Homo sapiens: one gene and its partners. The protein of the gene in region 2 interacts with the protein of the main gene of each other region in a biochemical or structural test. Each region holds a gene or a part of one and is shown on either strand. Other genes may lie near its edges.

Region 1 (8,013 bases), on a different chromosome or scaffold from region 2:
GTACAATTAACAAGTTAAAAGTTCTGAAAAGGCTCAGTGCGGTGGCTCACGCCTATAATCCCAGCACTTTGGGAGGCCAAGGTGGGAGGATCACCTGAGGTAGGGAGTTCAAGACCAGCCTGACCAACATGGAGAAACCCCATCTCTACTAAAAATACAAAATTAGCCAGGCATGGTGGCACATGCCTGTAATGCCAGCTACTCGGGAGGCTGAGGCAGGACTTGAACCCAGGAGGCAGAGGTTGCGGTGAGCCAAGACAGTGCCATTGTACAACAGCCTGGGCAACAAGAGTGAAACTCTGTCTCAAAAAAAAAAAAGTTCTGAGAAGGGATTTTGATTAAATTCAGCATTTAACAAAGCTTTTATGACTGCAAAAGCCTTTTTATACAATATTCACTCTGTACCCAGGTCTAGTTCTTTTTTTAATCAATTCTGTTTTAAAGATGAATATTTTGTGACATTTATTCTTTCTTTAGAAATCTTCCAAAGAAGGCCAGCTGCGGTGGCTCACACCTGTAATCCCAGCACTTTGGGAGGCCAAGGCAGGTGGATCACGAGGTCAGGAGATCGAGACCATGCTGGCTAACACGGTGAAACCCCGTCTCTACTAAAAATACAAAAAATTAGCCAGGCATAGTGGCGGGCGCCTGTAGTCCCAGTTACTTGGGAGGCTGAGGCAGGAAAAAGGCATGAACCCAGGAGGCAGAGCTTGCAGTGAGCCAAGATCGCGCCACTGCACTCCAGCCTGGGCGCCAGAGTGAGACTCCGTCTCAAAAAAAAAGAGAAAAGAAATCTTCTAAAGAAGAAAATCTACTTTTTCTTTAATAGAATAAACTCATTCTATTCTGTTTGCAATTATCATATGGGTCCATTGAACCCTTTCATAAATCTGATACATTATGGAATCTTAATCTTATTTTTCCTAATTTTGGTATTTCAGCATCCTAGGAATCCTTTCACATTATCAATCATTCCCAACTATCCTAACAAAAAGACTAAAATGCAAAGCATGGTAGAAAGACCTTTCATGTAGAAACATGAAAGAATGACATGAAATAATCACTAATGCATAATCCTTCGGTTTTCTTTCTGTACTGCTCAAAGTATTACATCATCTTTCCAGAAGGCATTAAAGAGTCCGCAGATACCTTCTTTGTAGTTTTCCTTGAACACAGTTGAGAAATCAGAATTTTTCATTTTTCACAAATAGAAAAAAAAAAAGGAAAATTTAGACAAAGCAGAAAATAAATGCAAAAAGGCAGATAACCATTCTAGACTGAAGGTTCTCCACCTAGGCAATATTTACATTTTGAACCAGATAATACTTTGTAGCAGGAAAGCGTCTTGCACATTATAGGATGTTTAGTAGCATCCCTGGTCTCTATCCAGTAGATGTCATTAGCATCTGCTACCCCTCACTCCCTGGTTACAACAGCTGAAAATGTCTCCAGGCATTGCCAGATATCACCTGGGAAAAAACTCTCCCCAGTTGAGAACCAGTGCTCTGGACTCTAATTATAATGATGGTGAAATCAATCCTATAAGCAATAAATCAGATTATGATTTTCAGATGATGTACCATATGAATGGTCTCACTGAAAAAAAGGAATGAACAATATATTTCTAAGGACAAAAAGAAAATATGGTGGCCAGGCACAGTGGCTCACACCTGTAATTCCAGCATTTTGGGAGGCCAAGGTGGGCGGATCACGAGGTCAGGAGATCAAGACCATCCTGGCTAACAAAGTGAAACCTCATCTCTACTAAAAATACAAAAATTAGCTGGCTGTGGTGGCGAGTGCCTGTAATCCCAGCTACTAGGGAGGCTGAGGCAGAATTGCTTGAACCCAGGAGGCAGAGGTTGCAGTGAGCCGAGATCACGCCACTGCACTCCAGCCTGGGTGACAGAGTGGGACTCCATCTCAAAAAAAAATTAATTAAAAAAAAAAAGAAAATATGGTATCCTCACTTAGTCATTTATTAGGAAGGACTTCAAATTACATTATTTCATGACAAAAACCTGGACATCCTTAAAGAATGTGTGATAATATTCTTCCATCTTTTATGACGTTTGTACACCAAAATTTACTTAATATGGTTCATAAGTGGACAAACGTTGAAGGCAGGTACATATGTTAAAGTACTTAAAAGGAAACAGATGATGTAAAAATGAAAAAAATTCATTAAAATGTTTTGCAATTACAGAGCATGCAATTATGAAGAAAGGTCGTCTTTTCTTCAACCAAATTACGACTCTCAAAGTTCTCAAATGTATTTGAATTTGGTAATATGTGTACAGAAGTAATGATAAGCCAAGACTTATCAGTGGTGTATTTGAGATCTGGAATTAGTATTGCATTTTGATGATACAAATACAAGAAGAACCAGAAGTAATTACAAGCTAGAACCTATTAGAAATGTATCTAAAATCTAGTATCAGTTATTTACACGATGCACATGTGCCAGATTCAAGCATGACAACTGACAAGTAAATACAGTTGACCCCTTGAACAACACAAATTTGAAGTACACAGGTCTACTTATAAGCAGATTTTCTTCTACCTCTGCCACCCCTGAGATAGCAAAGCCAATCTCTCTTCTTCCTCCCTCTTTTCAGCCTACTCAACATGAAGAAGGATGAAGACCTTTATGATGATCCATTTCCACTTAATGAACAGTTAACATATTTTCTCCTTATGATTGTCCTAATATTTTTCTCTAGTTTATCCTAAGAATATAGTATATAATACATATAACATACAAAATATGTATTAATTGGCTATTTGTGTTATTGATAAGACTTCCAGTCAGTAGCAGGCTATTAGTAGTTAAGTTGTGGGGAGTTGAAAGTTATACTCAGATTTTCAACTGAGCTGGCACTTGGTGCCCTTAACCCCCAACATTGTTCAAGGGTCAAAAGCAGTTACAGAGGACACTGACATATTTGAGCACACATTATCTTCAACTTGGAATACATGGAATTAAAATTTGGGTTTGCAGTGTTCAAATTCTTAGTAAAATTTCCAGTGAAGTTAATTTTCACTATCCTTTATTCTTTCGTCTGCACATTATTCACAAAAGGGCTTTAAAATATTTTTTAAAGTAAAAAGAATCCATTATACTTAAATGGTAAATGGCGATGACTAATTTTTCTAGTATATTCAGGGTTATCATAATACTGAAAACACTGCCAAAGATATACTGCCTACACATTACTGTGCACCTACTGTATATACGGCAGCGGTCACCAACCTTTCTGGCACCAGGGACTGGTTTCATGGAAGACAATTTTTCCATGGACCGAGGTTGGGGGATGGTTTCGGGATGAAACTGTTCCACCTCAGATAATCAGGTATTAGATTCTCATAAGGAGTACACAACCTAGATCCCTTGAATGCACAGTTCACAATAGGGTTTGTGCTCCTATGAGAATCTAATGCTACTACTGATGTGACAGGAGGCAGAGCTCAGACAGTAATGGTCGATCACCCACCACTCACCCTGCACTGGGCGCAGCTCAGTTCCTAACAGGCCATGCACCAGAATCCGCACCCCAAGCACTGGGGACCCTGATATAAGGCACTCCCAGGTATAGAAATTTAAAATATGAAAATACCATGATCTCATGAAGTTTAATATTTACCATGTAGCATGAGATGTGTACTTTGCAGTAACAATAACTTGAATGTCAATAAATCAACCAATAAAAGAGGGTATGATTTTCTTGGTTGTGTGTGGTAATTAGAAGCTATGTGTAGATATGATATACAAAATAACACTACAAAAGTGAAAATGAATTAGAGTTAATCAAATAGGATGAATCTTAGAAACAGAGCTCAGTAAAAAAACAAAAAGAAAAAAAGGCCATATATATGATTTTTAAAATAAGCAAAATGAAACATATATTGTAACTTCTACTTCCACAATGACGAAATAGCTTCTATAGGACTAAAACTCCTACTGAGAACTAGAAAAACTCAATTTAAAGAAAACAAACAAGCTGTTTAAAAGTAGTAAAGAGCAACTGAGTGCTTGAAGGGCAAAGATCTCAGAGAGAAAGCAAATATACTGAGGCAAAGTCAATAGTCTCTACTTCTTTCTTCCTTGGGAGATTTTTAGACCCTAAACTGTGCTGTGACAAGCTAAGAAACTAAACAGAGAGCAACAGGTAAGAGCCTAAGAAACTAAGTAAACCCTCTGAAAGTACTCCTATGCTAGGGGGCCAAAATTTGGAGTCCAGATTCCACCACGAAAGAGATGGGCCTGGTAAACAACCCTAGCTTTAAGTCAAGATCTCCAAGGGACTATGTCCTAGGAGCATAAGAATAAAGGGAGGAAAAAAAAAAAATAGAACAGGACATACAAAAAAAAAAAAAACAAAAATTAGTCTCTAATCATATCAATGCTAAATTGGATTAAGGTTATCCATCCCTACATTAACTGCCTTCTGAAAGAAAATTAAATTCTCTCTGAAAAAAAAATAGCATCGAGAGCTTAATAAATTTTTACATATTATGTCCAACAATCAACTAAAAAAAAAAATCAAGCATGTCAAAAGGCAGAACCAAACACCAAGGGAGAAAAAACAGAAAACAAAATTTACCCATAGATAATCAAGATATTGGAGTTATTAGGCACAGTCCTTTAAATCATCTGTGATCAATACATTCAAAGAAAAAAAAGGTAAAGAATTTCACCTGACAACTAGAAAATAACAAGAATGAAGATAAAATATAAATTTTATAACTTAAATAAATAGATAACTTGGTAGGCTTAAAAGCAGATTCAATGCAGCAGAAGAGAGACCTGGAAGTTAATCTGTGGAAAGTATCCAATTTAAGCATAAAGAAAATCAAAGTAGGAGAAATACAGGAAAAAAAAAAAGAGACATGGGATGTAGTAAAAAGATCTATGGGATGGAGTCTCAGAAGAGGTGGGAAAACGGTACAGAAACATTATCTGAAGAGAAACTGGCCAAAAATATTTCAAAATTGACAGAAGACATCAAGCCACAGATTCAACAAATGCTACAAACCCCAAGCCAGATAAATATTACACTCAATCAAACCTGGACACACGGAAAAAATACTAACAACCAATGACTTAAAAAACAGCGAGAGGAGGATAAAAGACATTTTAACTTCAAAGAAGCAATAATAATCCTGAGAAATGATATTTTTAAACAGAAACCATGGAATCAGAATATCTTTAAAGTGTTGGGAGGTCAGGGGAACCAATACCTGTAAACTTAGAATTCTACACCCAGCAAAAATATTCAAAAATGGAGGCAAAAAAAAGACATTTTTCAGAGACAAAAAAAACTGAGAGAATGTATCATCAGCAGGACCTCACTAAAAGAAACACTAAAGACAATTCTTTAAGCAGAAGAAAAGTAACTCCAAAGATAATGCTGGAGACCTACAGGAAAGAAGGGCAATAGAAACGGTAAATATATAACAACAATAGCATATAAAGACTCTTAGTGTTTAAGGTCCTAATATTGTCCAAGAAGTGATAAACATATTATTCTAGTAAGCCAATGATGTATGTTATAATTTCTAGGATAACCACTAAGAAAATAATTGAAAAATGTATAACTAACAAGCCTATAGAGAATAAAAGCAAATAGGAAAGCAACAGATTAATCCAAAGAAGACAAGAAAGGAGAGGAAAAAAGACAAATACTAAGGCAATAGAAACTACCAAAACTGTAGATTGAAACACGAACATATCCTAACTACCTTAATAAAAAACGAACTATATACTCCAATTAAAAGACAGTTTTATCAAACTGGATTGAAAAATTAAAATTCAACTATATGCTGTTTTACAAGACACATGACTTAAATGTAAGTATACAAAAATGTCTAAATGGAAAAGGATATACATGCAAAAACTCATCGAAAGAAAGCTGATATAGATACAGTAGAGCCTAGGGCAGGAAACATTACTAAAGATAAAAAGACACATTATATAATAATAAATGGGTCAATCATACAGGAAAATGTAATAATTTTAAGTATGTGACCGCTGAAAGACATGGCCTTAAAACATACAAAACAAAACACAAAAGAGCATATACTATATGATTCCATTCATTAAAAACTTCCAAAAGTCAGCATACTGGTTACCTTTGGGGAAGTGTATTAATTTGGAGGGGGCACACAGGAAGCTATGAAGGTGCTATGAATGTTGTGTTTCTTGATCTGGGTAGTGGTTACAAAGGCATGTTCATTTGTTAAAATTCATAAAATCATTTGCTTATAATTTCTGTTATCTTTTGGTAGGTTGGTTATCCTTCCTTAAAAACAAACTATATTTTAAAAAAACAAAAAAAACAAAAAAAAAGCAAGAAAGTGATTTAAAATATTCAAGACAGTGATTACCTCCAGCAGGGACAAGAAGAAAGGACTGAACACGGAACACCTTGGGCTTTGACAGTATTGGTAACATTCCTTTCCTAAACTCGGTGGCTTATTCACTGTACTGTACTTTAGACACACTTTACATACATGCTTTAATATACATCTAAAATACTCGAGATTTTTAAGAAAGAAAATAATTCCTTATACACCGACATGTCAACAGTAGCTTGTCTGTGGTTAGGCTCTGGTTATTTTATTTTTATTATTTCTACTTTTCTGTTTTTTCCAATTTTTATAAAATCACCTGTATTTCTTGATAATTTTTTAAATACTAATTTTTACAAAGGAAAAATTTATCCCAATTCTCTACCTCAGTTGCCCATAAAACACTTTATATAAAACATATTTTATAATCCAAAGGTAAAATTCTAAATAGTTATACAATAATTGATGGGTAAATTAAATTATTAACAAATTATGAATAAACTTTTTAGAATGGATATGTTCTATAGCTTGATTGTGCTGATAGTAAAAGAGATACCGGTATTTATCAAAACTCACTTAATTGGACACTTAAAATGAATGTATCTTATCAGATGTAAATTACACCTTAATAAAGTTGATTTTAAAAACTATTATTGCATATACATTAGAAGCAATTAGATAAGAACACTTTACATACAGTACCTACAAATTCCACAGTTTTCACAGTGATACTGCTTCTTATCTTTGTCAAACAAATGGCATATATCGCAATAATATTCTCCAAACAATGTGCTACATTCTTCACAAGTCTGTTGGGCCTAAAAAAGAAACATAATTAAAAACTGCAATAAACTAAACATTTTGAGTTACCATTTGAATATCTAGAACTTATGTTCAACTATATGCAGTTTATTTTTATAAGTTTTGAAACACCTAAACCAAAGATATTGCTTATTCTAGAAGTTAAAGAAATCTTATTTATGATACTTTTGATTAAATTTTTTCAAACCACCTTAATACAGCTTTTAAAAAGAAAATAGAAATGTCATAAAATCTTACATGTTGAATTTTTTCACAGTTTATGCACTGCACTTCCTTCACTTTAAAGCGATCTAGTTGATGATCTTCATTGTTATCATGACACAAGCGGCAAGTATAAAGCTTGTCACAGCAAGGTGCCTAACACCCACGGAGAAAAAAGAGATATAGTAAGAAGCAAAAGAAACTAAGTGTGCAATACAAAAAGAAAATTTCTTCCTCCTCCTCCTGGATGGAACTGAAAGATTACAACCAATAGATCAGTTGCTAAACTGATCCTAAACATAACATTTCACTAGTTTCTTGGCATATTTTATGTTAATTCTTCCCTTCAACATCACTACGTCTGTATGAAGTTGAACACAACTTTAAAACAAAAGAATTATGAAGGAAATCCCTAGATTGAAACACTAATCCCACAACACCTGATATGCTTTGGCTGTGTTCCCACCCAAATCTCAACTTGAAATGTATCTCCCAGAATTCCCACGTGTTGTGGGAGGGACTTAGAAGGAGGTAACTGAATCATGGGGGCCAGACTCTCCCGTGCCATTCTCGTGATAATGAATAAAATCTCATGAGATCTGATGGGTTTATCAGGAGTTTCCACTTTTGCTTCTTCCT
Region 2 (7,206 bases):
GCCCTGCTGTTAACACTCTCAAGGTGTCCAATCCGATGTGTATTCATGGATTTGGAGAGAGATTTCCTGCTTCCCACGGGCTAAGGGAGGGGTGAGGGTGGAGAGGGCAGCTGGGGAAGGCAGAAGGACCAGCCTTCTCATATCCTGCATCTCTGTGAACTGAATTTTCCTGATTTTCACAACGCCCCTGTCTCCCAAAAGACCAAGGGCAACCTCCCTTTTGCCTTCATCCTCTAATTGTAAGTCTTTTCCTCACAGGTATGAGGATGAGATCAATAAGCGTACAGAGATGGAGAACGAATTTGTCCTCATCAAGAAGGTGAGGGAGTCTCCCTTCTCCTATCTGGACACTGGAGGCTGGGGCTCAGAGACTCAGACCAAGAAGCTTTCTGGGTTTTGTCCCTAAATATTCCTAAGTAGTGGGACAAACTCATTTATGTAAACATTTGGGTGCACAGAAAGGTAGACAAGGATGGAGTGGTAGGTGCATTTGGACAGAACTCTTGACATCGGTGTTGGGACATGGTTCAGAAAACAGAGCAGTAGAACTGGAGATCTGGCTCTAGAAGGCTCCCTAGAGAAGGAGGTGGAAGAGGGTGTGTTGCAGGAAGCAGAGGTGAAGGTGTGTGGGCTGAGAATGCACATGTGATGGGCAGAGGCTGGGCTGGAAGATCAATCCACAAAGTGGGCAACTAGAAAGTCCTGTGACCAGGCCATTGGGTGGACCTTGGGAGCCCCTTGGTTGGGGTTGGGTGTGGAAACCCAGCTCAGGCTCCCCTCTCCTCATCCCCCAGGATGTGGATGAAGCTTACATGAACAAGGTAGAGCTGGAGTCTCGCCTGGAAGGGCTGACCGACGAGATCAACTTCCTCAGGCAGCTATATGAAGAGGTATGTTCCTGGTCGCAGGAGAGTGAGGGTCCCCCAGCCTTGTCAGCGCCTCCACCCTGAGACTCAACCAGAGGCTCCTCCCAGCCCCCAGCACACTAATAAGACAAAGGCCCACTGCTGACTAATTACAGCCACCAATATTTGCTCGGCTAGTATTTATTGGGTCTATATGTTCTGTCCCTCGCATGAGGGATGAGTCATTACCCCATTTCACAGACGAGAAAGTGGGCTCAGAGAAGTGAAATAACGTATCCAAGGTCATCATAGGGTGTGGTGATTCAGCAGCAACTCTGTCCCCAAAGCCCTTGTTCCTAATCTTTGAGCTGCATTGGATCCCTCTGTGCACCTAGTATTGGTGCACCCAGTTCCTTTTTCAGGAACTTTGCCCTCTCCCTGACCCTGACTCCCACCTGCTCCTCTCCTCTGCTGCCCCTGTCTTATACCCTAAGAAAGGCTGTTGTGGAAAAGGGGGCTCCCTGTGTGCAGAGACAGGGCCTCACCACTTGCCCTCTTCCCCCACAGGAGATCCGGGAGCTGCAGTCCCAGATCTCGGACACATCTGTGGTGCTGTCCATGGACAACAGCCGCTCCCTGGACATGGACAGCATCATTGCTGAGGTCAAGGCACAGTACGAGGATATTGCCAACCGCAGCCGGGCTGAGGCTGAGAGCATGTACCAGATCAAGTATGAGGAGCTGCAGAGCCTGGCTGGGAAGCACGGGGATGACCTGCGGCGCACAAAGACTGAGATCTCTGAGATGAACCGGAACATCAGCCGGCTCCAGGCTGAGATTGAGGGCCTCAAAGGCCAGGTATGGGCCGGGTTGGGGGTGGGAGGGGTTCCTTGGACACATCCTGGTGAGAGGAGATAATGTAGGAAGAGTGAAGTTTCTGGGAGTCGGGGAAGGAATCCTAGACCAGGGTTCAGGAGTTGGAGGGGCAGCCACAGTTCAGCTTCTCAGTCTGCTTCTGAGAAGCAAAGGGATGCAGGGAAGGTCCCTTGGGCCAGGACAGAGGTGAAAGGGGACTGGGGCAGGTATGTTGGGGCTCGTGATACATGCTCCCAAGCCTGCTTTAATCAGTCATATGCATCAGGGTAAGGTTGAGCTCTGCTGCTTTAAGGAAAGTCTAGAACCCAGGGATCTAGTCCAGTTAGGGTAGGGGGACCTTACAGTGTCGCAGGTGAGAAGGGTGTGGAGGGGAAGCACCTGGAAACTGCTCATGTCTCCCTGATCTGCTTCCTTAGTCTCGTTTATTTATTTATTTATTTTTGAGACAGAGTCTTGCTCTGTCGCCCAGGCTGGAGTGCAGTGGCGTGATCTCGGCTCACTGCAAGCTCCGCCTCCTGGGTTCACACTATTCTCCTGACTCAGCCTCCTGAGTAGCTGGGACTACAGGCGCCCGCCACCAGGCTGGCTAATTTTTTTTGTATTTTTACTAGAGACGGGGTTTCACTGTGTTAGCCAGGATGGCCTCGATCTCCTGACCTTGTGATCTGCCCGCCTCGGCCTCCCAAAGTGCTGGGATTACAGGCATGAGCCACTGTGCCCGGCCCTTAGTCTCATTTAATTTGAGCTGGGGGGAGTCAGCCTAGGTGGTGGTGGGGAGGACCCTGAGGGAGGGTGGGAGCACGGGAGAAGAGAAGGCATACCCAACCTGACCTACTTACCTGTCCCCTACCCCACAGAGGGCTTCCCTGGAGGCCGCCATTGCAGATGCCGAGCAGCGTGGAGAGCTGGCCATTAAGGATGCCAACGCCAAGTTGTCCGAGCTGGAGGCCGCCCTGCAGCGGGCCAAGCAGGACATGGCGCGGCAGCTGCGTGAGTACCAGGAGCTGATGAACGTCAAGCTGGCCCTGGACATCGAGATCGCCACCTACAGGAAGCTGCTGGAGGGCGAGGAGAGCCGGTGGGTGTGGGTACCTCTGACCGGACCTGCTTCCCTATCCCTGGGACCTGGGGTGGGGACGGTGGGAGCCCCCTGAAGCCCCTTGGGACTTGGGGTCCTGTTGTTCTGGGCCAAGAAGGGCTAGGAGTTGGTCCTGACACCCCATTTGTCTGGGTACAGGCTGGAGTCTGGGATGCAGAACATGAGTATTCATACGAAGACCACCAGCGGCTATGCAGGTGGGTGTCCCAGGGCCCTGGGATGAGGGCGGGAGGCAGGGCCCAGGGAGGCCTCAGCTCCAGGGAGGGGGCTGTGCTCAGTCGCTCACAGTGACCTCAGCCTGAGCACTCATGTTCTTGGGAGAATCCTAGGGTGGGGAGGCACATATTCAGGACCCCAGTAATAACTTTATTACTTAGTAACTTTACTATTAGAAAGCACCCAAATAAACCATAGCTGTGTGCCAGGCACTGTGCTAAGTATCCTACAGGTTTTATGTGATTTATTTTATTTATTAATTTAATTTAATTTTTTTGAGACGAAGTCTCGCTCTGTCACCCAAGCTGGAGTGCAGTGGCGTGATCTCAGCTCACTGTAACCTCCACCTCCTGGGTTCAAGAGATTCTCCTGCCTCAGGCCTCCCAAGTAGCTGGGACTACAGGCGCATACCACCATGCCCAGCTAATTTTTGTATTTTTAGTAGAGACGGGGTTTCACTGTGTTGGGCAGGCTGGTCTCGAACTCCTGACCTTGTGATCAGTGCTGGGATTACAGGCATGAGACACTGGGCCTGGCTGTAATTTATTTTTTATATGACACCTGTAAACGTCTTCAGTTGAGGAAGCTGAGGTGCAGCTAAATGTCCAAGGTCACACAGCTATATATATGGCAGCTGTTTTCCACCCTGCTCCTGGTTTTCCCTGACAGTTCTGGAGTAGTGAACCATGCAATCACTGATCAGGCAGAGCTGGGTTAACCTCCCATCCCTGGGGCTATGTTGGGAATGAGCAGGGAGAAGGGGCATGGAGCCTGCCATGGGGTGGGCTTCTGTACTCATGTGGCTACCTCTGTCCCTCACCAGGTGGTCTGAGCTCGGCCTATGGGGGCCTCACAAGCCCCGGCCTCAGCTACAGCCTGGGCTCCAGCTTTGGCTCTGGCGCGGGCTCCAGCTCCTTCAGCCGCACCAGCTCCTCCAGGGCCGTGGTTGTGAAGAAGATCGAGACACGTGATGGGAAGCTGGTGTCTGAGTCCTCTGACGTCCTGCCCAAGTGAACAGCTGCGGCAGCCCCTCCCAGCCTACCCCTCCTGCGCTGCCCCAGAGCCTGGGAAGGAGGCCGCTATGCAGGGTAGCACTGGGAACAGGAGACCCACCTGAGGCTCAGCCCTAGCCCTCAGCCCACCTGGGGAGTTTACTACCTGGGGACCCCCCTTGCCCATGCCTCCAGCTACAAAACAATTCAATTGCTTTTTTTTTTTGGTCCAAAATAAAACCTCAGCTAGCTCTGCCAATGTCCTTGCTTGTGTGTGCATCTGATGTCCACTGGGGTGGGAGGGAGGTGGTCAGGAGGCCTCTTCTTGGGACTGAGAAGCTGGGAGGGGTCCAGGAAGCAGGGGGTGCACAGCGGGAAAGTCTGACCCCCTCAGCTGTTCCTAAAGAGGCTCCTTTATTGAAACCTGGTTGAAACCTTGCTTGTTGCCATAGATATCTACACCTGTATAATAGTCATTGACCTGTGCACAGTGCTTTCTGGTTTACAGTGTGCTTTCAAATCCCAAGGTTCATGTGATCTGTGCAGCAAGGCTCAAGAGGCAGGCAGAGCAAGTTTTTGAGGGCATTATCAGCAGAGAGCTTAGTGTGCTTCCCCTACACCTTGGCATCAGGACTATCTGCATATAAGGAAAGCCAGGCTCAGAGAAGCCAAGTAGTTGGCTCATCTAGAAACTAGCAGATTTGGCATTGGAACCCAGAGCTGTCCAGCTCTCAGGCTTGTACTCCTCCTTGGCCAGGCACATGGCCTTTCCTTGTGGCCAGACATGTCTTTTTATCACCTTCAATCTTTGCAGTCAGGGACTAAGGCATCCTGGCTTTTCCATCCCCTCAGAGGTTCAGAGTCTATTCTCAGCCATTGGGTGTGTCATACCCACAATTTCTAGAAGCTAGAAATTGTGGGACTTGGCCCTTCCCCACTCCACTCAGTCACAGCCACCACCCCCTTCCTATCCTTTTTACAAGCTGTGTGTATGATATAAAGGGCGTGTGTGCATTCTGTGTTTGCATGTGGAGGGTGTACTGTGTGTGCATGGGTGTGCACAGTGTGTGAAGGGGTCTGCCTGACTCTTGAGACAACCTCCAAGGTTCAGGGCAGGAGGGGTTAGGACACAGCTGGGTGGGGCAGTGCATCCCCACAGTCCTGCTCCACTGCCACAAGCACAGAGTTCCAGGCAGCCACCCTGTCCATTCAGCATTGGGCTAAGTGCACAAGCCCTTAGCACGACTGAGATGGGGGCATTTCCAGACTTTCTGAAACACCAATGGAGATTAGACAGAGACAGGCAGAGGGTACTGTGAGTGGGGACAGGCTGGTGCAGGAAGCTCCTGTCAGGCTCTGCTGTGCGGTCTCTCTCCAGGGCTCCTGTCTCTGGGTCCTCAGCTTCCCAGCCCCTGGGCTCCCCTCTGAGGGCCCCATCTCTGCACCTCCCTAACTACCACACAGTGCCTCCCTAGCTACCCACATCGATGGAGCTGGGCTTCCAGACTGAGCCCAGGAACCCCCCACTGCCAACCCCTCCCACTCAGCCCCAGGGCCAGGCCCAGGGATTTGCACACTGTCACCTTAGAGGATCTCACTCTTTGGTAGTACTCATTAACAGCACCATTATCCAGAGCAGGGGATCTATTTTGGCAGTGGTCCACAGTAAGAAATTCATTTTATCACCACCTGCAAATATGTATATATACATATATATAACTGAAACAAAAATTTCATGAAACAATACCAACCTTCTGCCTTCTGCTCACATGTAGCCTGGCCCTCAGCAAGAATCAGGTGGGTGGTGTAAGAGCCCAGCGCAGTCACAGCACCCAGTGAGAAGGATCTCTTACCATGGGTGCCCTAAGTCAATATTTTCAATTGTGCCCCTCCCAATCCTCCCTGAAGCCAGTCACCTGTCTTATCTGGCCCTGTTCCCAGAAGCAGGCATGCTGGGGGCAGCCGGGGGCCCCACCAGATAGTCTCCTGGGAGTTTCCACGCCCTGGGTGTTTGCTCAGGGAAAGGCAGGATGGCTCCAGGGAGAATTCCCTTTCCCTCCCTCCCTGCTTGCTCCTTCCAGGTTCTGGTGCATCTACCATGGGATCAAGGTCACCCAGCATTAAGGGGACACCATCCCTCCCATTTATCTTTCAGAAACTACACAGACAGAAGAGCTGGAAATCCAATGGTCATTTAGATGAGGAAACTTAGGAAGGACAGGAGCTGACATTTCTTAAATATCCATTTCACCTGCTTGTGTGTCATCTCATTTCAAGTCTCCAACGATCCTGTGAGGCAGGACTTAAAACCCCATTCATGGAGGTAGAATCAGTCTAAGCTTATGTAAGTGGTGTCCTGACTCTTGACAATACTAGATTTTTTTTTCTTTTTTCTTTTTCTTTCTTTCTTTCTTTCTTTCTTTCTTTCTTTCTTTCTTTCTTTCTTTCTTTCTTTCTTTCTTTCTTTCTTTCCTTTCTTTTTTTCTTTTCTTTTCTTTTCTTTTTTTTTTTTTGAGACAGAGTCTTGCTCTGTCACCCAGGCTGGAGTGCAGTGGTGCAGTCTCGGCTCACTGCAACCTCTGCCTCCCGGGTTCAAGCGATTCTCCTGCCTCAGCCTCCTGAGGAGCTGGGACTACAGGCACCCGTCACCACGCCCGGCTAATTTTTTGTATTTTTAGTAGAGACGGGGTTTCACTGTGTTAGCCCGGATGGTCTCCATCTCCTGACCTCCCAAAGTGCTGGAATTACAGGCGTGAGCCACTAAGCCTAGCTTTTTTTTTTTTTTTGAGTGATGGAGTTTCTCTCTTCTTACCCAGGCTGTAGTGCAGTAGCGCGATCTCGGCTCACTGCAACCTCCACCTCCCAGGTTCAAGAGTTTCTCCTCCCTCAGACTCCGAAGTAGCTGGGATTACAGGTGCCCACCACCACGTCCAGCTAATTTTTTGTATTTTTAGTAGAGACAGGGTTTCGCCATGTTGGGTAGGCTGGTCTCGAACTCCTGACCTCAGATGATCCGCCCACCTCGGCCTCCCAAAATGTTGGGATTACAGGCGTGAACCACTGTGCCCAGCCTTTTTTTAGAGACAGAGTCTCATTCTGTCACCCAGGATGGAGTGCAGTGACACAATCTCGGCTCACTACAACTTTTGCCTCTTGGGTTCAAATGATTCTCCTGCCT
Region 3 (8,013 bases), on a different chromosome or scaffold from region 2:
TCAGAGCATCTTCCAGTCTCACTCGGTGCCTGGTACCCAGGGACACCTAATAAATGCTCATTCTCTTTGAACCCCGTGACTCCTCCTGCCCACACTCACTGATTAGATGTCTGCCCCAGGACAGGGTCTCCTCTGTGGGTCCCTCCCTGGCTGCCTGACTCCAAAACAACCTGGGGCTCCCCACTGTGCCCACTGGAGCCTGGTGCCTGGGTGTGGAGGACCCTGGCACGAAGACCGCAGCAAGACACCCTTCCCCAGGTCCCCAGAGCCCCTGCAACCCTGTCCATAGGCCATGGGGCTGTGCTGGAGGCACCTGGCCTGCTCACAGCCATCCCCTTCTCCAGGCTGCGAGAGCAGCCACCCCGGTAACAGATCATACTTTAGCAACATCGGAGGGGCCACGTTCCTGCCATCACCTCCACCCCAGCTGTCCCTGTCGCCCAGAACTGCTGTGTCCCCTGCTGGCTCACAGCCCAGCCTGCACTCTCCTCCCATGTGTGGACACAGGTCCCTGCAGGCTCAGCACTCCCTGCCTGGCCAGGGCCACTGGCCTTTGATCACATCTGCAGTTCCTTCCTCTGGGGGTTAATTCTGTCTCAGTGGGTGTGTATTGGGGTTGCATTGCTGCTGGAATGTCTGGAACGCACAGGAGGGTACACCCCTCCCTGGAACCAGCCTCACCTGTCCCAGAGCCCAGAGAAGGGGCTGGGCCTCCTGCCACCACGGTCATCCTCTTCTGGCGTCCTGCCTGCCTGGAGGGCCAGCTTGGGGGAGGTGCACCTCCGGTGCCGAGTAGCCCTCTGCCCCTACCTTCTTTAAACACTGCCTGGCTCCTGAAACATCTGCCCTGGCTCTGACACAAAGGCAACCACCGTGGACACTCAGGAAATAACTGATGAATAGTAACAACACTGAGGGCACCTACTGGGTGCCCAGCGACCGCTCAGTCCTTTTGTGCATCACCCATTGACGTCTCATAGCCCTAGGAAGTAGCCACCCTTAGTGTTACTGGGGCTCTTAATCCTACCTATTAGGCTATTAAATTTTTGGACAAAAAGAACTTACTCACCTTTTTGGGGGCCCTTCTATAACCTTAATTCCACACCTTGCGTAGGGCTGGGCTCAATAAATAGGTGTTGAACTGAGCAGATGTTTTAATGCAATTCGGTAACTCTTATGTCTCTGTGTTCTAGGTGAAGATAACTGAGGCTCACAGAAGTTAAGAAACTGGTCCGAGTTTACACAGCTGGGAAGTGGTGGTGCCAAGATTCGAACCCATGAAGACGGGCTTCAAAAAGCCACCTTCTCAGTACAAAGGGGACATCAGTATCAATCCACACCCACCCCTTACAGACAAAGGGACAAGAGACATCGGAGAGACAGGATGATGGGACCAGGCATTCACCACCCAGGGAAGCAGAGTGATTTACAGTTTGTTGTCATTTTCATCAGTACAATTAATCCCAGTGGTTGGTTGGGTAAGGATTAGTGATGGTAAACGGAGACTGAGTCATTCTCCTAAGTTGTCCCCACAAGGGACTCCCAGCCTGTCCCTCCAAACAGACCTTTCAGGCGGAAGCAACTGCCATTGAGTGAGCACCTTCCTGGCCCACACCCTACCCTAGCACCGGAAGCAGGTTTCATCTCTGATCCTTATAACAACTAGTTGAGGTACGTGCTATCATAGCTCCATTGCAGATGAGGAAACTGAGCCTCAGGAAGACCACTTGCTCAGGGTCAATAGGTTAGTAAGAGGTCTATGCTTGTAACTGCTGCAGCCCCAACTGGGCACTTTCTAGATATTCAGTAATTGCCAAATAAATTTTCGACCCCACCCCACCAACTCTTTGTCATCTCTCTGCCCCTTACAGGCCCTGGCAACAGGCCCTTCACCATTAACAAGCCCCCAGAGATATGAATTGTCCACATGCTATAAAATACCTGCTCAATTTCACACCTATTTATGGAGCCCCAAGCTTATGTAAGGCCTGGAATTAAGGACAACAGAAGGCCCTCTCCCAAAAGATGAGTAAATCCCAACTATTCAAAAGCTTGTAAGCTAGTAGGTAGGTTAAGGAAAAACACCCCAATGGGTATAATTACAAAGATTTGGCTTGGCGCGGTGACTCATGCCTGTAATCCCAGCACTTTGGGAGGCCGAGGCGGGCAGATCACGAGGTCAGGAGATTGAGACCATCCTGGCTAACATGGTGAAACCCCATCTCTACGATAAATACAAAAACAAAAATAGCCGGGCGTGGTGGCAGGCGTCTGTAGTCCCAGCTACTTGGGAGGCTGAGGCGGGAGAATGGCGTGAACCTGGGAGGCAGAACTTGCAGTGAGCTGAGATTGTGCCACTGCACTCCAGCCTGGGCAACAGAGCAAGACTCTGTCTCAAAAAAAAAAAAAACAAAAAAAAACCAAAAACAAAGATTTTAGATCACTTACACCAGGGTATTTTCATCCACTGTGTTCCATTTAGGCCTTATAATCTAACTTTAATGATGAAAATATACTCAATCCAGTAAAAACCAGGAAAAGAGCAAAATGGAAACAAAGGGAAAGCATGATAAATAGGGCACTATGGTGGAGTAGGTTCAAACACATTAGTCATTACAATAAATGTAAATGAGTTAATTTTGCCTATTAAAAGATAAAAGACTCTCCGGTGAGATTACAAAACACACACCTTCCCCAAGCTATATGCCATTTTATAAGACACACACACTTGAAACTAAATGATACAGGAAGGTTGAGAATAAAGAATGGAGAGTGACATACCAGGCAACTGATACTGAAGAGAGAAAGCACTGTCCATATATCTCAAAGACAAGAGGGAGCGAGGCAATCCATGTAACTATGTGGTTCCCAACAGCTGCACATCAAAAGAATGATGTCTGGACCCATGTCCATGGAGATTTTGACTTAACTGGTCTTGGAAAGGGCTCTGACATGCTGTTCAAAACTCCTCAGGTGATTCTAATGTACAGCCAGGGATGAGAACAAGGAACTGAACCACAGCAAGGTTTAAAAGAAGCAAGATGCCGAAGAATCCTAGATCTCTATAGGAAGGAAGCCCTGTGAGAAAGCAGTACACAGAATGTGCCCAATGAATACCAGATTGATTGGTCAATTGACTGATTCTCTCACTACTAGAAACTCCTGTGCTAATTAGACAGTAAATGTCCTCACACCCAGCTATTAATCCTGTGGAAATATATCCTAAGATGAGAAGGTTGCTGGTGTAGTAATTCCAGGTCTGTTTTTAAGGCCTAATCTGTTTCTGCCCAGGGAAGGCCGCCCTGCCTCCAGGCCTCTGATGGGGCCTAGGGTTCTGTGTCAGGTGAGTGCTTTTGGGCTCCTTTTACAAACATACAGAAGTTCAAGCTGCTTCAGGTAACACCAAGGCAGGTCTTGAAGACAGGGCAACACAGCAAGACCCTATTTCTACCAAAAATAAATAAATAAATAAAATTAGCTGGGCATGGTTGTGCATGCCTCTAGTCCTGGCTGCTCAGGAGGCTGAGGTGGGAGGATTCATAGCTCACTGCAGCTTTGAATTCCTAGACTCGGGGGATAAACAGGGCTCAAGCCAACTTTGGTGCCCCAAGGCATCAGGATGTCACTCTGGGTTCAGGACCACTGGAGAAAGAGCACCAGCCTCCTTTTTCATTTTTTGAGACAGAGTCTTGCTCTGTTATTCAGGCTGAAGTGCATTGCTGCACTTCACTCACTGCAGCCTTCAACTCTTGGGCTCAAACACAAAATATATTTTGTATTTTTAGTAGGGACAGGGTTTCACCATGTTGGCCAGGCTGGTCTCCAACACCTGACCTTAGGCCTCCCAGAGTGTTGGGATTACAGGCATGGGCCACTGTGCCCGGCCATCTCAGCAGTTCTTACCCAGACACTTTGAGAGGGCTGGCAGGGTGTCCTGGCCGCCCCGCCCATCCTTTCCTAGGCAGAGGGTTTTTGTCATGCTTTGTAAGATAAAACACACCAGAGCTGCTGGCTGAGCCTGCAAGGCCGCAGGGCTGTGGGAGAAATAGAACTTGCAGAATTTTTTGCTGCCCCCACTGCCTGGGCTAGGATTTCAGGCTGATACCTTTTAGGGTTTCAAATTCTCTGCCTTCGCCATGGCGATGGTTTGTTTCCCATCGAAGGGTGGGAAAGGATTCCAAGTTTGTACCACAAAGAAGAGACAGGGCTTCAACCCTGCTTCAATCTCAGATAAGAAACTCTATTTGGCTGGGAGCAGTGGCTCATGCCTGTAATCCCAGCACTTTAGGAAGCCGAGGCAGGTGGATCACCTGAGGTCAGGTGTTTGCGACCAGCCTGGCCAACATGGTGAAACCCCGTCTCTACTAAAAATACAAAATATAGCCAGGCGTGGTGGTGGGCGCCTGTAATCCCAGCTACTTGGGAGGCTGAGGCAGGAGAATCACTTGAACCCAGGAGGCAGAGAGGTTGCAGTGAGCTGAGATTGTGTCACTTCACTCCAGCCTGGGCAACAAAAGTGAAACTCTACCTTAAAAAAAAAAAAAAAAAAAAAAAAAAAAAAGATCTGCCGAGAGTCCTGGAGCGAGTCACTCAAACTCTCTGAGCCTCACTTGGAACGAGAGCTGAGGGTAGAATTTATCTCAGACAATGTAATAATCATAATTTAGGGTGATGGTTTTAAGCTAGCACCCAACCTCAAGGCCTTTCTGTGTTCATACCTTTCCCAGTTCTGGTCCCCTCCCCTCTCACTTCCTTGCAGAGACTCTCCATTTTTGTCTCCCCATCCAGAACCTGCCTGCTTGCCTTCCAGGACTGGGCCCCCTTTGCTTCCTGAGGTCCCTCTTCTTCCTCTCCCAGACCTTTTATTTTGCTATGGACTGGACTCTGAGACCCAGGACTCAGGGCTTGCCTGCAGGCTCTTCCCACGCTGTGCCCCCCGCCAGCTGTGCCCCACGCCAGCTCGCCTTCTCTACTCCACCCTTCACCTAAACTGGAAAACTCGTGATCTACTCAGACATGCAGAAAAGTACTGAAAAGAATCAGCCACGCATGTCCCCACCACCACGGTTTGGTTGATGTTTTCACAGTACCATCTTTGCTGCAGATTTTTCTAAAAAGGAAGAGAAATGTTATTGTTCATTATCCTTTCAGGCCCCTTCTTAGGAGTAGCAGAATTTTAGATTTACTGGTTCTTCCTAAGCCTGTTTTATTTTATTTATTTAGAGACAGGGTCTTGCTCTGTTGCCCAGGCTGGAGTGCAGTGGCACAATCACAGCTCACTGCAGCCTTGAATTCCTGGACTCAGGGATCCTCCCCTCTCAGCCTCCTGAGTAGCTAAGACTAGAGGCATGCACCACCATGCCCAGCTAATTTTTTTTTTTTTTTGGTAGAAATAGGGTCTCACTATGTTGCCCAGGCTCGTCTTCAACTCCTGGCCTCAAGTCATCCTCCCGCCTTGGCCTCCCAAAGCGCTAGGACAAGTGCGAACCACTGCACCTGGTTCCCTAAGCTTTCCAATACATAGACACATCTGCATTCAGGAAGAGTAAGTGGAATTGCTCTGTGTATGTTTCTAAAAATGTATATATGCAAGCATCATCTTTGCATCCTTCATCAACTTGCTTTGCTTGCTCACTGTCATGCCTTTTCGGGTCGTGGATACACACATCCCCGTCACCTTCTGTCAACTGCACTCTCTTTATCCTCTCATCTCCAACTGATCCCCGGGTTCGGCGTGGAGGACCTCTCCTGAAGAAGCCTGTGTGGCTGGGTCAGGGCCCTCCTTTATCTCACTATCACTCCGCATTGCTGCCAGCTGTGTACTCAGCCAACTCTCTGCTCACCGTCCTGCACGCAGGAGGTGACTGGATGGGGACAGGGCAGGGGGCAGCCTGCTCAGGCCTCGCACTCCTTTCCACTAGCTGGAACCCCTGCCCCATTCATCCCCACCTCCGGGCTCTGCTGGTCCTGGGGTGTGAAGCGCAGGGCAATGTATGCTCTCTTGAAATGCTGAGGGAAGGGGAGAATCTTAGCAGTCCCCCATGGCTTACTCTCATTCATTCATTCATTCAGCACGCGTGTAGCACCAGTGTCTGGGGGAAGGCAGCCACACAGCCACATGTGGCTACCCCGGAGTCACATAGCTGCTGAGATAAGAGCTACCAAGGAGAAGGGGAGTCCATAGAATAGGTGGATCTACCCCAGCAGAGAGGTTGGGGAAGGCTTCCCTGAGGAACAGAAGGTAAACCTGGAAGTGGAAGAGAAGCAGTGAAAAGGGGTGGGAGGGGCATTCTGGGCAACAGGAATGGCAGAGGGAAAGGCCTTGTGGCCGGGCACAGCGTGGAAACAAGACGGTGACAGGCACATGTTGATGTGCAGGGCACCAGCTCCCAGGGCCTAAGAGCAAAGAGAGGTCTGGGGCAGGGGTTAAGCAGCTGGAGGTATGGTCAGATTTATGTCGTAAGGAGCTCCCTGGCTGCCATGGGGAGAAGGGACTGGAGCGCTGGAGTGGAAGAAGGAACAGTGAAGAGGGACTGGAGGCCTGCTGGGCTGCTGGCTCTGCAGGCAGGGAGAAGTGGGGATCCATTTAAAGGGAAAGGGCCTGCGTGCAGTGGCTCATGGCTGTAATCTCAGTGCTTTGGGAGGCTAAGGCAAGAGGCTCACTTGAGCCCAGGAGTTCAGGACCAGAGTGGGCAATATAGTGAGACCCCATCTCTACAAATATTAAAAATTAGCGGGGCACGGTGGTGTGCACACCTGTAGTCCCAGCTTCTTGGGAGGCTGAGGCATGAGGATTGCTTGAGCCCAGCAGTTCAAGGCTACAGTGAGCTATGATCGCACCACTGCACTCCAATCTGGGTGATACAGTGACAGCCTGTCTCTAAAGAATAAAGAAAGAACACTTAAAAAAAATAGGTTGGGGTAGGGAAGGGCAGGGCTGGGACCTGAAGAGAGCTTTGTCCCACCCGGAGGCAGAAAGGGGCACCAGGTGGCCTCCCGGGCTCCAGAGGCTGCAGCACAGCAACCCATCAGAAGCCGGGAGAACAAAGACCAGAGGCCGTTTCCCCATTCGCTCCCAAGACAGGCCGGGGCAGGCAGGCTGGGAGGATGCAAGGTGGTGCCGGTAACACCGGCACAGACCTGCCGGGAGCAGAGAGCAGCTGCACGCTGGGAAGCCAGGGTTCTCTTCCCCAGACGAGGAGCTTTGGAAGCTCTCTAAAGCAGCTTCTCCCCCAGGTCCCCTACTTCCAGGGCCTCCCCCAACCACACCCTTAGGGTATTGCTTAAAGGGTGTGGACGGAGCTGAGTCTCTCCCCCAAAATACCCTTTCCCAACATGATCCGCCCGACAGTGCCTGAAATGCTACCATTAGCAGCTGTTCCTCCAGGTAAGCTCAGCTCTGTCCTGAATCGAATTTATCCAGTCTCATTCCTTCTTCCAAGAGAACTGGGCAAGGGATGGAGGGGCAAAGCTAGAGAGAAGAGAGGTAGAGGGGGTTGCTGGGGGTAGAGGCAGTGAGCACAAACACCAATGACTCTACCATTTGGCCTGGAGCAGTCCCCAGGCACAGTTGCTGCCAGATCCAGGTACGAGTGGGGAGGCCTCATTTGCTTCCCCAGGCCCCCCTGGACTTCCAGCATCAGCCATTTGTGAGCTGTGAGCTCAAGGTGAATGTGAGCCCTCTGTGAAACAGGACACTTCCACCTGCATGGCAGGCCCGCTGTCAGAATGAGATGTAACATCCATGGCCTTGCTGGGCTCACAGTATGTGCCTGAGAAATGGCGGGGCGGCTCTCTCTAAGCTGTTACCCACATGGGTCCCCTCCCATATCGATCAGGCGTTCCTACCAACACTGATCGATGGGTGCATGTGCGTGTCTGCTTGAGTCAGCTCCCTGGTCAGCTCTGGGCTTGGCTCAGTCATGAATCTTTTTTTTTTTTTTTTGAGACGGAGTCTCGCTCTGTCTCCCAGGCTGGAGTGCAGTGGTGTGATCTCGGCTCACTGCAATCTCT
Region 4 (5,580 bases), about 57 Mb from region 2:
TGCCTGTGTCACTGATAGCTCACCCTGGACGGAGTGACCTCTTCAAGTCTCCGGGTCTCACAAGCCACCACTTGGCTGGATGTCAGGACTCAGTAAGATGAGGCCTGTAAAGCACCCGGCACAGTGTCCAGCATGCAGTAAGTGCTCAATGTATGCTACTTATTATTTGATGATTTCAATCTACTAGTTTAGTCTTTAGGACCCAAACTCAGTTTTATAGATGTAAGCAGCATTCAACATCTCTATAATAACTTCCTTCTGGCTGGGCATAGTGGCTCACGCCTGTAATCCCAGCACTTTGGGAGGCCAACGCTGGCGGATCACAAGGTCAGGAGTTCAAGACCAGCCTGGCCAAGATGGTGAAACCCCATCTCTACTAAAAATACAAAAAGTAGCCGGGTGTGGTGGCGGGCGCCTGTAATCCCAGCTACTCGGGAGGCTGAGGCAGAGAATTACTTGAACCCAGGAGGCAGAGATTGCAGTCAGCCGAGATCATGCCACTGCACTCCAGCCTGGGTGACAGAGCAAGACTCTATCTCAAAAAAAAAAAAATAATTTCCTTCTAAACCTCTAAGATTTCAGATGAACACATCGTTACTCTAAACCTTAATGATTTCCACCTCAGATAATACAAGGGAAACACCCCCAGAGGCCAGGTCCATTATGAAGATGTGCTCCTCAGGAATGATGGACAACATACACAGCTATCTCTTCTTCTTCTTTTTTTTTTTTTTTTTTTTTTGAGACAGAGTCTCGTTCTGTCACCCAGGCTGGAGTGCAGTGGTGTAGTCATGGCTAATCGGAGCCCCAACCTCCTGGGCTCAAGTGATCCTCCCACTTAGCCTCCCGAGTAGTTGGAACTACAGGTATGAACAACCACGCCTGGCCAATTTGTGTATTTTTGGTAGAGCCTGGAGTTTTGCCATGTTGCCCAGGCTGATCTCAAATTCCTAGGCTCAAGCGATCCACCTGCCTCGGCCTCTCAAAGTGCTAGGATTACAGGTGTGAGCCTCCACGCCCAGCCAATAGATATTTCAGTAACAGGTGACCCATGGGGCATTTCAAGGTATCAGAGTTGAGGCCAGGAGCATCCAGCCCAGTCAGCAGCTGCCACTCACCTCAGCAGCATCTGCAGCTCTGCCTCCCGCGCCCGCTCCAGCTGCAGCTGCTCCTCAATGGCCTGCTTCATCCAGGCCACATCGGCCATGACCTGCTCCCGCCTGGCCAGGTGGAGGCGCTGGCTCTCGTCCTCCTTCTCGAGGAGGGCCTGCAGGATCCGCCTGTCTGCCTCCTAGAGGAAGCAGAGGGCGGCACGTGGCTGGGCTGGACAGAGTCCTTCTGCAATGAGAGCCTACAGAGGGGCCTGCCCTCCCTTTCCTTTCTACATAGACATTCGTGATTCTACACAGTGTTCTCAAGACAGAGATGGGAAGATCCTGGATTATTTCTGGAACAGACTGGGGATAATCACGAGGGGTGGTTCAGACACTGCACAGGCCTAGGAGCTTCTCTCTGGCTAAAGGGAGACCCAGCCACCACCACATGCCCTCGGATACACCTGGTTGCACAACTTTTTGGAATACAACTTGGCAAAAATCCCACTTATAAGAACAAAGACCACAGTGACACAAAAGTGCAAAACACTCGTTGCAGCTTTTAGGTAAGAGGGAAAAACCAGAAACAACCAAAATGCTCCTTGGTGGGGAATTAGCTACTATGTACATCAACATAATGGAAGCATTAAAATAATGCAGGAGGCTGGGCACTGGGGCTAATGCATGCAATCCCAGCACTTTGGGAGGCTGAGGTGGGAGGATCACTTGGGCCTAGGAGTTCAAGACCAGCCTGGGCAATGTAGCAAGACCCCATCTCTACAAAGCATTGTGATGTACACCTATGGTCCCAGCTACTCGAGAGGCTGAGGTGGGAGGATGGCTTGAGCCTGGCAGGTTGAGGCTGCAGTGAGCCGTGATTGCGCCATTGCAATCCAGCCTGGACAACAGAGCAAGACCCCATAAAAAACAGCTGCACACCAGGACCAACCATGCCACTGTGCCCCATGTCCTGCCCTGACCGCAGTGGGCAGGGATGGGAAGGGCAGCTTAGGTCTGTCTCCCTCACTTCAAGGGAGCTCATCAAAGTACTTAGGAATACAAAGGAGCTATCTGAAAAGAACAGGTTCAATCTAAGCATAATGACCTTTTTTTGTTTTTTTGAGACAGAGTCTCACTCTGTTGCCCAGGCTTGAGTGCAGTGGTGCAATCTCGGCTCACTGCAACCTCCACCTCCTGGGTTCAAGCAATTCTCCTGTCTCAGCCCCCCGAGTATCTGGGATTACAGGTGTGCACCACCATGCCTGGCTAGTTTTTGTTGTTGTTGTTCTTGTTTTGAGAGAAGTCTCGCTCTTGTCCCCCAGGCTTGAGTGCAACGGCTTGATCTCAGCTTATTGCAACCTCCACCTACCAGGTTCAAATGATTCTTCTGTCTCTGCCTCCCAAGTAGCTGGGATTAAGGCGCCTGCCACCACACCCGGCTAATTTTTGTATTTTTTAGTAGAGACAGGGTTATACCACATTGGCCAGGCTGGTCTCAAACTCCTGACCACAGGTGATCCGCCCGCCTCAGCCTCCCAAAGTGCTGGGATTACAGGTGTGAGCCGCCACGCCCGGCCATGTCCGGCTAGTTTTTGTATTTTTAGTAGAGATGGGGTTTCACCATGTCATTCAGGCTGGCCTCAAACTCCTGACCTCAGGTGATCCGCCTGCCTTGGCCTCTCAAAGTGCTGGGATTATAGGCGGGAGCCACCGCACCTGGCCGATCTTTTTAAAAATTAAGAGATTTAGTGTTAATTGAAGATGCTGAGGAATGCAACCTCAATTAGATTTAAATACAAAAACAAAAACCTCCACCTCTCTGTATGTAAATACATCTAGAAAGATGTGAACTAAACAGGCACCTCTGGGGATAGACAGAGATTGCAGGTGCTGGTCAAGGGGGTGATCTCACTTTGTGTTGTGCTGCTTTTTAAGTAACACAGTTACTGAAAAATAATTTGATGTTTTGATACCTGTATCTATCCATCTATGTATACACACAGACACTGGGAAAGGATCCTTACGGTCAAGCTAATTAACATATCCATCACCTCACAGTTGGTTTTCATGGTGACAACACTTAAGATTGGCTCTCTTAGCAAATTTCAAGAATACAATATGGTATCATCAGCTGTGATCAACATGATGGACACTACTCCCAGATCTCCCAACCGAGGGATGTATCCTTTGACCAACATCTCCCCTTTCCCCCAACCCCTCACTGTCTTCATTCTTACGAGAATGCACTCATATACTAAGCAATGGAAGGCCTTTTTTACAAAAGAGGCTAAGAAAGATGTCAGGCTGTCTCTTCAGACTTACCAGCTCCTCTTGGATCTGCTGTGTGCGTCTGCTGAGTTGAGCGTTATACTGATGTCTCAAGAAACGCCTGAAGGAGAATCAAATGTGGGCTGCCTTCAGTATCTCAGAAAGAATTAAATAGAAGTTAGATAACTGCTGACCAGGCTGTCTCCTTTATGGTTTCAGCAACACGAATGCAAGTCTGAAAAAGCAAGAGGCCCACCCGCCTGGGAAGAGTGGGGGGCCCTTCTGACACACACCCCAGCTCTGCCTTCTGCCGGAAGGCTTCCATCTGCTTTCGCTCTTCCTCCAGCCTCTCTAGCTCCCACCGCTGCTTCAACAGATTCTCCTGCTCCTTCTTTAGTTTGGTCGCCTGTGGTGATGATGAGAGTAAGCTCGACTGAGATCTGAGATCGTGGGAATCAGATCTTCCTTCATTCTCCATCTCCATTTTTCGCAGACACTACACCAACAGAGGCCTGGCCATGCAGGTGGTCACGATCCCCTCCCACCACTCACTTACTCATCCAATCCCCTCTGAGCCATTTCCTGCAAGGGCCTTTCTGAGCCCTGAACTCTAAACTCCCACAGGATCCTGTACTGGTCCACTCTTACTGTAACTTAACAACTGTCCTCCACCTGACACAGCCCCCACCAGGAGGTCAGGACTGTGGGCCTTGGTCAGGCTCTATCTCTAGTTCCCAACCCAGTGCTCAGCACCTAGAATAAGCAGTAGGCACTAAGAATGTAGTTGCTAAATCACGGCCTGGGCAAGGGGAAGTGAGGTCACAGGAGCATGGGCCTCCCTCTTCTAAATAGAAAGATCTCTTTCAAGGAAACTGTGCCATGTTCTCCAAAAACAGCCCCTGGACCAAAAACCCTCAGTTATGCCTCGAGACCCGAAACCTGCTCCCCACGGAGAGCTGGGTGCTAGACCACCCGATTAAATTGTGTCTACTCAGTGCACTGGAAAATCCAGATTCTAAGAAGGTTCTCCAACAGCAGGCCGCTAACCACCTCTAAGAGAACAGCTACTGGCTCCATGTCGTTAATGTTCTGGAATTCAGGCACGCAAACGAGGAGGATGGGAAAGCACAAGGCAGATGGGGATGCATGTGAGAGGGAGAACCCGGCTGCTGCCGCCCTTTGCAGAATCTCAGCCCTGCTATGGCCTCTTCTTAGGGCAGCCTCTCAAGTGCCCATCTCATGCTAACGAGCAGCTGTGGAGGAGGTCACGGCTGAGAGGGGCTTGTGCCCACCTCCACCTCCTTCAGCTTCAGCTCCTCCATCTGTTGCAGCAGTGCCTCGGCCTGGAGCTTGTCCTCCAGCTGCCTCCTCTCCTCTTCAGCTTTCATCCTTTCTAGCGCCTCCCTTCGGGCCCTTTCATATTCATTTTCATACCGTTTGTTCTCTTGCTCTGCGGTGGCTTCTTGCTACAAGGGACCAAATGAACACAGGTCAATATCTGTACCGTAAGCCAACAAAAACCTAGCTTCCTGCCGCCGTTCTGCAGGCCACAGGGCCCAGGCAGTTCCTGCCTGAATCCCAAATGACAACGCCCTCAGACGCCAAGTCAGGGAGGGACTCAATAATGTTGGGTTTCCTCCCCACTCAACAAAACACTTTCTAAAATGAACCAGGCAGCAAAGCGACCAGTGCACAGAGGTGTGGAAGCTTAACCCCAAAGGGGTTACAGTAAGCCAGGGCTGCGAGTTTACGATGCAGATTTCATCAAAAGAGAGACAAAAATGCCCTTAAAGACACACGTCCTAGCTGGACCCTGTGGCCCACGCCTGTAATCCCAGCACTTTGGGAGGCCGAGGTGGGAGAATCGTTTAAGGCCAGGAGGCCAGACCAGCCTGAGCAACAGAGCAAGACCCCATCTCTACAAAAATTAAAAAATTAGCTGGGCGCAGTGGTGCGTACCTGTGGTCCTAGCTACTCGGGAGGCTGAGTTAGGAGGACTGCTTGAGCCCAGCCAGTCGAGGCTGCAGTGAGCTGTGAGTCGCGCCACTGCACACCAGCCTGGGTGACAGAGCAAGACCCTGCCTCCAAAAGAAAAAAAGAAGACGCGTGCTGTATGTGCCACCTCCCAGCCCTGGTCACCTGGCCTTATTCTGCCCTGGGAATTATCACATAGGATTCTGGTATATGTAAGAGCAAACATTCAGTTTTCACATGTGTC

Evidence for each region.
Region 1: the proteins of KRT8 (region 2) and RCHY1 form a complex in vitro, tested with the Homo sapiens proteins (one study listed by BioGRID).
Region 3: the proteins of KRT8 (region 2) and PPL form a complex in vitro, tested with the Homo sapiens proteins (one study listed by BioGRID).
Region 4: the proteins of KRT8 (region 2) and TCHP form a complex in vitro, tested with the Homo sapiens proteins (one study listed by BioGRID).

Annotation. Positions count from the first base shown.
Region 1 is NC_000004.12:75,501,767-75,509,779, forward strand, and holds part of RCHY1 (RING finger and CHY zinc finger domain-containing protein 1), read right to left. Parts: intron 7,531-8,013; coding exon 7,411-7,530; intron 7,170-7,410; coding exon 7,054-7,169; intron 1-7,053. UniProt on the Homo sapiens protein: E3 ubiquitin-protein ligase that mediates ubiquitination of target proteins, including p53/TP53, TP73, HDAC1 and CDKN1B. Mediates ubiquitination and degradation of p53/TP53; preferentially acts on tetrameric p53/TP53.
Region 2 is NC_000012.12:52,894,272-52,901,477, reverse strand, and holds the end of KRT8 (keratin, type II cytoskeletal 8), read left to right. Parts: intron 1-258; coding exon 259-319; intron 320-794; coding exon 795-890; intron 891-1,412; coding exon 1,413-1,703; intron 1,704-2,493; exon of another isoform or gene 2,494-2,578; coding exon 2,579-2,799; intron 2,800-2,958; coding exon 2,959-3,017; intron 3,018-3,859; coding exon 3,860-4,050; 3' UTR 4,051-4,287; downstream 4,288-7,206. UniProt on the Homo sapiens protein: Together with KRT19, helps to link the contractile apparatus to dystrophin at the costameres of striated muscle.
Region 3 is NC_000016.10:4,924,483-4,932,495, forward strand, and holds part of PPL (periplakin), read right to left. Parts: intron 1,447-8,013; exon of another isoform or gene 1,194-1,446; intron 1-1,193. UniProt on the Homo sapiens protein: Component of the cornified envelope of keratinocytes. May link the cornified envelope to desmosomes and intermediate filaments. May act as a localization signal in PKB/AKT-mediated signaling.
Region 4 is NC_000012.12:109,906,774-109,912,353, reverse strand, and holds part of TCHP (trichoplein keratin filament-binding protein), read right to left. Parts: intron 4,829-5,580; coding exon 4,655-4,828; intron 3,769-4,654; coding exon 3,656-3,768; intron 3,484-3,655; coding exon 3,417-3,483; intron 1,292-3,416; coding exon 1,119-1,291; intron 1-1,118. UniProt on the Homo sapiens protein: Tumor suppressor which has the ability to inhibit cell growth and be pro-apoptotic during cell stress. Inhibits cell growth in bladder and prostate cancer cells by a down-regulation of HSPB1 by inhibiting its phosphorylation.